Linked DNA regions of Homo sapiens. The protein of the gene in region 1 interacts with the protein of each later gene in a pairwise test. Each region holds a gene or a part of one and is shown on either strand. Other genes may lie near its edges.

Evidence for each region. Proteins that work in one complex are often made in the same cells at the same time.
Region 2: the proteins of FMNL2 (region 1) and PKNOX1 interact in a two-hybrid assay, tested with the Homo sapiens proteins (one large-scale study listed by BioGRID and IntAct).

What each region holds. Positions count from the first base shown.
Region 1 is NC_000002.12:152,341,674-152,345,173, forward strand, and holds part of FMNL2 (formin-like protein 2), read left to right. Parts: intron 1-3,500. UniProt on the Homo sapiens protein: Plays a role in the regulation of cell morphology and cytoskeletal organization. Required in the cortical actin filament dynamics.
Region 2 is NC_000021.9:43,005,562-43,009,061, forward strand, and holds part of PKNOX1 (homeobox protein PKNOX1), read left to right. Parts: intron 1-1,929; coding exon 1,930-2,057; intron 2,058-3,500. UniProt on the Homo sapiens protein: Activates transcription in the presence of PBX1A and HOXA1.

The DNA of each region.
Region 1 (3,500 bases):
GAAAACAAAATTTCCAGAACATAATACATTGTGATTCATTAGTTGACATTGGCTTTTGAAGAGCTTTCAGGTGGAAATGTGTGTAGGGGTGTTCTGTGTGGTCTAAAGAGTAGAATTCCCCAGGGTCAGTGACTGAAAGTCATATGAGCATAGGGAAAAATATTCTAACATGTAGAGTTGTTGAAAATGGATGGTGAGTTCTCCGTTAAAGTTATTCAGATAATCTGTGTGACAAACACTGGTGATTGGAAGGCCCTTTGCAGCCCAAGAAGATAGGAAGTACATTATTGGCTCGAAAGTTGCCCTCTTTGAGGTGAGTCTGCAACTTGCAGGTTCTAGACATAGAATTATAACACCTGAGAGTGGGGAAAGATCTCCTGGTAGGTGCTTCCTGGGCTTAAAGAAGAAAAAGATACGTATGGGCTGATGTTTGTTCTGGAAATTCATTTGACTTTATAAGAACTGTTGCTTAAAGGGTTTGGTCTTAATGAACAGTGCTCTTCTTTTTCATATTTAGAGCTTGGGGAATAGGGACAAGGTAAAGTGGGCTCTCCAGCCCTCAGGTTTAAGCAAGTAATAGATGTCAAAAAAGTAGCTAATACAAGAAGCACTGATTATAGATGATTGCCCCTCCTTTGCAAGAGGACGCTGTAACTGGAGTACTTTTAGGAACAAAGCATTGAATCCTTATAAAAGAAGGAACAGCCTAGAGGAACTTAGGAGGGAAGGTGAGTTACAAGCTATACAGTTGCTTGGCAGATCTCATCTTGTAGAGCGGCTCTTTATGGAGTGCCACTGCCATCCCTGCAAATAAGAAGTGTGTCCCTAGGCTTTGGAGTCATGGTTCCTTAGAGAGCCTTCATGTACCTTCTTAGTTCTCACCTACTTGAACACTGGGGACAGAGATAGCTCATTGCTTGTCTTCCCTTTAGAATTCCATCTGTTCATACTGCAGGGTGATCTTCCTCCCTCCTCCCCAGTGACCCCTTCCTCCTTTCCAGAAACCTGTCTTTCAACATAAATGCCAAGGACTATGCAGTTTCCAACTGATAGCATATAATTTGGAAGCAATGTCTAAGGGAAGAGCTGTTAGGTTGGAGAGCTGCCTCTTGAACTGTGATCTCAACCAAGGCCCGGAGATGTGGACCAGACGGGCTTGGAATTCTGAAATTGGGCAACATTCAGCCCTATTTACCAGGTATGATGGTATTTGATGTTGACAGATAAAAATGTACATTCTTTTCACTCTCTGAAAAAACAAACAGAAAAACATGACCATCAGTGTTCACTGGTAGGCAATTATCACAAACTCTCTATGATTTCTAGTCTTGTATAGTTTCTAGGACAAACTTCATATAGTTTCTGTGATTCCATGATCTTCAGTGTTCTTGTTTAGCCTGTAATTGACTTTGGTGACTCTCATTTCACATGTAACCTTAGTCTCCTTTTTTCTTTGCAGAAGTTCTGATGCATTTGTAAGCCCCTGTAACCATTGCCACAGAAGCTGAAAGCCTTGAGGTGTTTAGACCCTGCTATCCCCAGAAGTAATCTCACTTGACTGACTTCTGTGCATAGAAGATGCCCATGGCTTGGTTTTGGGAATGATGTCAAATATCAAATAGTTCATATTTTTTTGTTTTGAGATGGATTCTCCTTCTGTCATCTGGGCTGGCGTACAGTGGCGTGATCTCAGCTCACTGCAACCTCTGCCTCCTGGGTTCAAGCGATCCTCCTGCCTCAGCCTCCTGAGTAGCTGGGATTACAGGCACGCACCACCACACCCAGCTAGTTTTTGTACTTTTAGTAGAGACAAGGTTTCACCACATTGGCCAGGCTGGTCTTGAACTCCTGACCTCAAGTGATCCACCAGTCTTGACATCTCAAAGTGCTGGGATTACAGGCATAAGCCACCACACCCGGCTTAAATAGTTCACATTTTTGACCATGTGCCTGGTGCTGGGACACTAACGTGTGACTGATGGTGCTTTTAAATAACACATCTCACTAGTCTCAAGACCTGTCTTGGTTGAGGGTTTGCTCAGGAACCTGACTTCCCTTCCTTGTTTTTTTTCTCTCCGTGGAAGTTTGGCAGAACACCTTATTTAAGCTAGAATAAGGGTATTGGTAAGTTAAAGTAGTGGTTCTCAAACTTGGTTGTGCATTGACATCACTTGGCGATCCTCAGAAAGTACAAGTGGGCCAGGTACAGTGGCTCACGCCTGTAATCCCAGCACTTTGGGAGGCCAAGACAGGAGGATCACTTGAGGCCAGGAGTCCTAGACCAGTGTGGAGCAACATAGGGAGACCTCATTTCTACTACTAATGAAAATTAGCAGATGTGGTGGTGCATGCCTGTAGTCACAGCTTACCTGGGAGGCTGAGGCAGGAGGATTGCTTGAGCCCAGAAGTTTGAGGTTGCAGTGAGCTATGATCATGCCACTGCACTCTAGTCTGGGCAACAGAGCAAGACTATCTCTAAAACAAAAACAAAAACAAAAACAGAAACCCACAAATGCCTGGGTTCCACTCCCAGAAATTCTGATAAATTTGTCTGGAATGTGACCTGGGCATCAGGATTTTTAAAAGCTCCCTAGAAGGTTTGAATGTGCAGCCAAGGTTGACAGCCACTGTGCTAGATGTTTTCCCCCTTTTTCTTCCTACCCCAAAGACCAAGCCAATTTGCCTATGAGTTAAAACCAGCAGAAAACAAGATAATGAGTGTAATAGAAAAGGGATTGTTTAAGAAGTTAAACAAAATTTTGGATAGATTAGGCAAAATTGAGAAGGTTGAGAAGAGTTAAAAAAATGAAAGATATTTGATTCAACTAAAAGCAACAAGATGAAAAAATACAGAAGAAAAGGATAAATCCTGTTGAATGGTAGAGAGACTTTATTTAACTATTTAAGAAATGACCACCAAATTATCATAATGAAAATTTGTGAGAAAATTCTATACATATGGTGTAAGATTAAGCAATGACCCAGAAGTATACTTCTGGAGTAGAACAATCAATAAATCAATTGCATTTTTGCTTAGGCCTCCATTCTGTAGCCTAATTGTTTGTTGGTTCAATGCAGCCCTTTTGCTTTGATCTCTGGTTTTACCATTTACAAAGACTTGATGAGCTTGGCTTCCTGTAGTGAAATTCAAATATACTTGTGAAATGTAAACAACATTCATTTATTAAGAATCCTATAATCAAGGCAAATTGGCATGCTTATATAAGCAATTAGCCTTGAGAATAGAAAGATAAATAGGATGCTAGGTCAAGAATGAGCTGATTGTTCTCAATGCAAGACTCTAGTTATTTCTTTATTCATTATAATGTAAGCAAATAGACATTCCTCTTATTCATAATTTTTAGCATTTGTGGTTTGGGGTTTGAGGACAGCATATGTGGTTTTCTGGAACTGAGAGGATAGTAGCAATTATTGTTTCATTTTGATTTAGAAATATAAATCAATCTTATAAGGAACTGTAGGTAGTTGATTTATGACTA
Region 2 (3,500 bases), on another chromosome or scaffold:
CTAATAATGTCCCGCCTGAGCTCTCCAGTGGCTCCCTGTGGATTCCTGTGGGTTTCATGCAAAGACTGAGCTGCTCTGTGGCCCGAATCGTCTGGCCCCTCTGGACCCCAGGACGCCCCCAACATCTCTGCCTGGCATATCTTGGGCACCTCTCTGCCTGCCCTGGAGCACCGGTCCTCACTGTTCCCATCACTCTTCTCCCTCCTGCCTGCCAGGTCTTTGCTCCGACCCCACTGCTGCCTCCTGTGCACCAAGGCACGGTGACCACCTCCAACACAGCCTGGTTGCTACCAGCCACCTCCTCCCAGGCAGCTGTGCCAGGTGCAGATGACACCTGGAGCACTGCCCTTTTCATACCCGAGTGTTTCCAAGGGCCTCGGAAGTGTTTAATCAGCATTATTTTAAATAAACATTGAAATATATCTACAGCGTAGACCTATCATAATTATTTTGCCATTTTTCCAAGGTTGAACATTTAGGTTTCTCTCTTTTCACAATCATTTTTTTTTCAAATACTGAAATGAATCTTTTAAGGCTTCTTATTTTTTATTATTTATTTATTTACTTATTTATTTATTTTGAGACAGAGTCTTGCTCTGTTGCCCCGGCTGGAGTGCAGTGGTGTGATCTCAGCTCACTGCAACCTCCGTCTCCCAGGTTCAAGCAATTCTCCTGTCTCAGCCTCCTGAGTACCTGGGATTACAGGTGTGTGCCACCACGCCCAGCTAATTTTTTTGTATTTTTAGTAGAGACAGGGTTTCACCATGTTGGCCAGGCTGATCTTGAACCCCTGACCTCAGGTGATCCGCCCACCTTGGCCTCCCAAAGTGCTGGGATCACAGGCATAAGCCACTGTGCCTGGCCTTTTTAAGGCTTTTTATACATGCTGGCAGATTGCCTTACACAAATACTGTGTCCACTTAGGCTTTATTGCTTTTATTTTTTTTTTTTAAGAGAAACATAAACAGTTTTCCTAATATGTTGTACCATTTAAAGGCAGCAGAATAGAAGTCATCTTATTGCAAAAACAAGACATTGGAGGGAAGAGAGCACAGGGCTGGAGGATGTGAGAGGCGTCCTGTGCGGGTGGGCGTTCATGGCTGGCCCCCAGTCTGTCTGGACAGTGGGGATGGCCCCGCTCCCATGAGGTCTCCCCGCCCCCGCTGCCCCAAGCTGCTTCCTCAAGGGGCAGAAGCATGGCCAAATCCACCGCGGGAGAAATGGCCCGTCCTGGTCCTGAGGAAGCTGAGGTCAGGACAGTCTAATCTGCTGCTCATGGATAACTAGAAGTTTACTTTCACGAAATTTTGTTTTTGTAAACTGATTTTTTTTAACGATTTAAATGTTTTTTACCTAAATGACAAAGGCATTGCTTGTTTAAAGCAGTTTAAATGATAGTATCTTTTAAGGCTTTAAGTAAACACAGCTGGCCTTTTCCTTTCTGAATGCAGTGACATTTTTATGGCTATGTATTGCTGAGGTTTGAGGGTAGATATGGGAGAAGTTCAACCTTGTCCCAAATATGTAGCGTATGGGTTAGGTTGTGTCTGTGACATGGTAAGAAGACCTTGGACTATTTGTCTATGCTTCTCTGACTGTAGTATTGCTACACGTGAGGAGATATAGCAATAGACGGAGGAGTAGATTGCACGTGTGCCGTTCTCTTCATTAGGCCATCGCCAGTGTTATTTTAAAATCATGAGCATTTCACAGACATTGGTTATCTCAGTTCTTAAGCAGTTTGGAAATTTTACCTTTATTTTAAAGCACATTAAATTCAAAGCTGTTTTGTTGGTAGCATTCTTTACATATGATTGCAGTCATACTGCTGTCTGGCAATTCCCCACTCCAACTGCATTCCTGTTGGAGCATGGAATACCTCGTAGTAGTTTGTGTTTGCTAATAAGAATTATCTTCCTCCTTTTACAGATGCAAGTAGTAACAGAGTTAAAGACAGAACAAGATCCAAACTGCTCTGAACCCGATGCAGAAGGAGTGAGCCCTCCCCCTGTGGAGTCTCAGACCCCGATGGATGTGGACAAGCAGGCCATTTATAGGTAGTGCCCGGGGTGCCGGCTGTGGGGGCCTCAGAGGAGTGAGGAGTGTCCACAAGTTTGTTAAAAGGAACACCAGAACTAGTAGCGAGGCAGAGTTGTGAGGTGCCATTATGATGTGATAACTGCTCGGCTGAAAATTTTCTCAGATTAAGATGTTATTTCTGGCCAGGTGTGGTGGCTCATGCCTGTAATCCTAGCACTTTGGGAGGCTGAGGCGGGCGGATCACTTGAGGTTAAGAGTTTGAGACCAGCCTGGCCAACATGGTGAAACTCCATCTCTACTAAAAATACAAAAATTAGCCAGACATGGTGGCACATGTCTGTAATCCCAGCTACTTGGGAGGCTGAGGCAGGAGAATCACTTGAACCGGGGAGGCGGAGGTTGCATTGAGCTGATATCGCACCACTGCACTCCAGCCTGGGCAACGAGAGCAAAACTCTGTCACACACACACACACACACACACACACACACACACAAAGATGTTATTTCTAATACCTATAAAAGTTTTAGAATATCAATCTATAAATTTTGTGTAACCTTGCAAAAAGAAATATTCAGGCACAGATGATTTTACTGAGAATTCTACCCAACATATAAAGAAGAAGAGAGCAGCAAGTCTGCATAGTCTCTTTCAGGAAGTAGAGGAGGAGTGAATGCTTCCCAACTCACTTTATAATTGACATCACTCTGACACTAAGACCAAAGACAATACCAAATAAGGAAAATACAGGCCAATATCCTTCATGAACTTAGATGTAAAAATCATCAATAAAATATTAACAAATCAATTCTAGCAATATGTAAAAAGAATAATACGTAGCGACCAAGTCAAGTTTTTCCTGGGAATGTCAGACTTGTTTAGTATTTAAAAGTCTGCCAGGCGCAGTGGCTCACACCTGTAATCCCAGAACTTTGGAAGGCCGAGGCAGGTGGATTACCTGAGGTCAGGAGTTCAAGACCAGACTGGCCAACATGGCGAAACCCTGTCTCTACCAAAAAATACAAATATTAGCCGGGTGTGGTGGTGCATGCCTGTAGTCCCAGCTACTCTGGAGGCTGAGGTGGGAGAATCACTTGAACCCGGTAGGCGGAGGTTGCAGTGAGCTGAGATCATGCCACTGTACTCCAGTCTGAGTGACAGAGAGTGAGGCCCTATCTCAAAAAAAAAAAATTTTTTTTTAAGTTCAGCATAGAATTATATATAACTCAGCAATTCTACTCCTATGCATATGTATACCTAACACAAATGAAAAAAGTCCACACAAAAACGTGTACATGAATTTTCATAGCAGCACAGCCTATCATGGCCAAAAGCTGGAAACAGTGCCCATGCCCATCAACTGATGAATGAACAGACACATTATGGCATCTCCATGCAATGCAAGAATATTTAGCAGTAAAAGGAATGAAGTGGCGGGCGCGGTGGCTCATGCCTGTAAT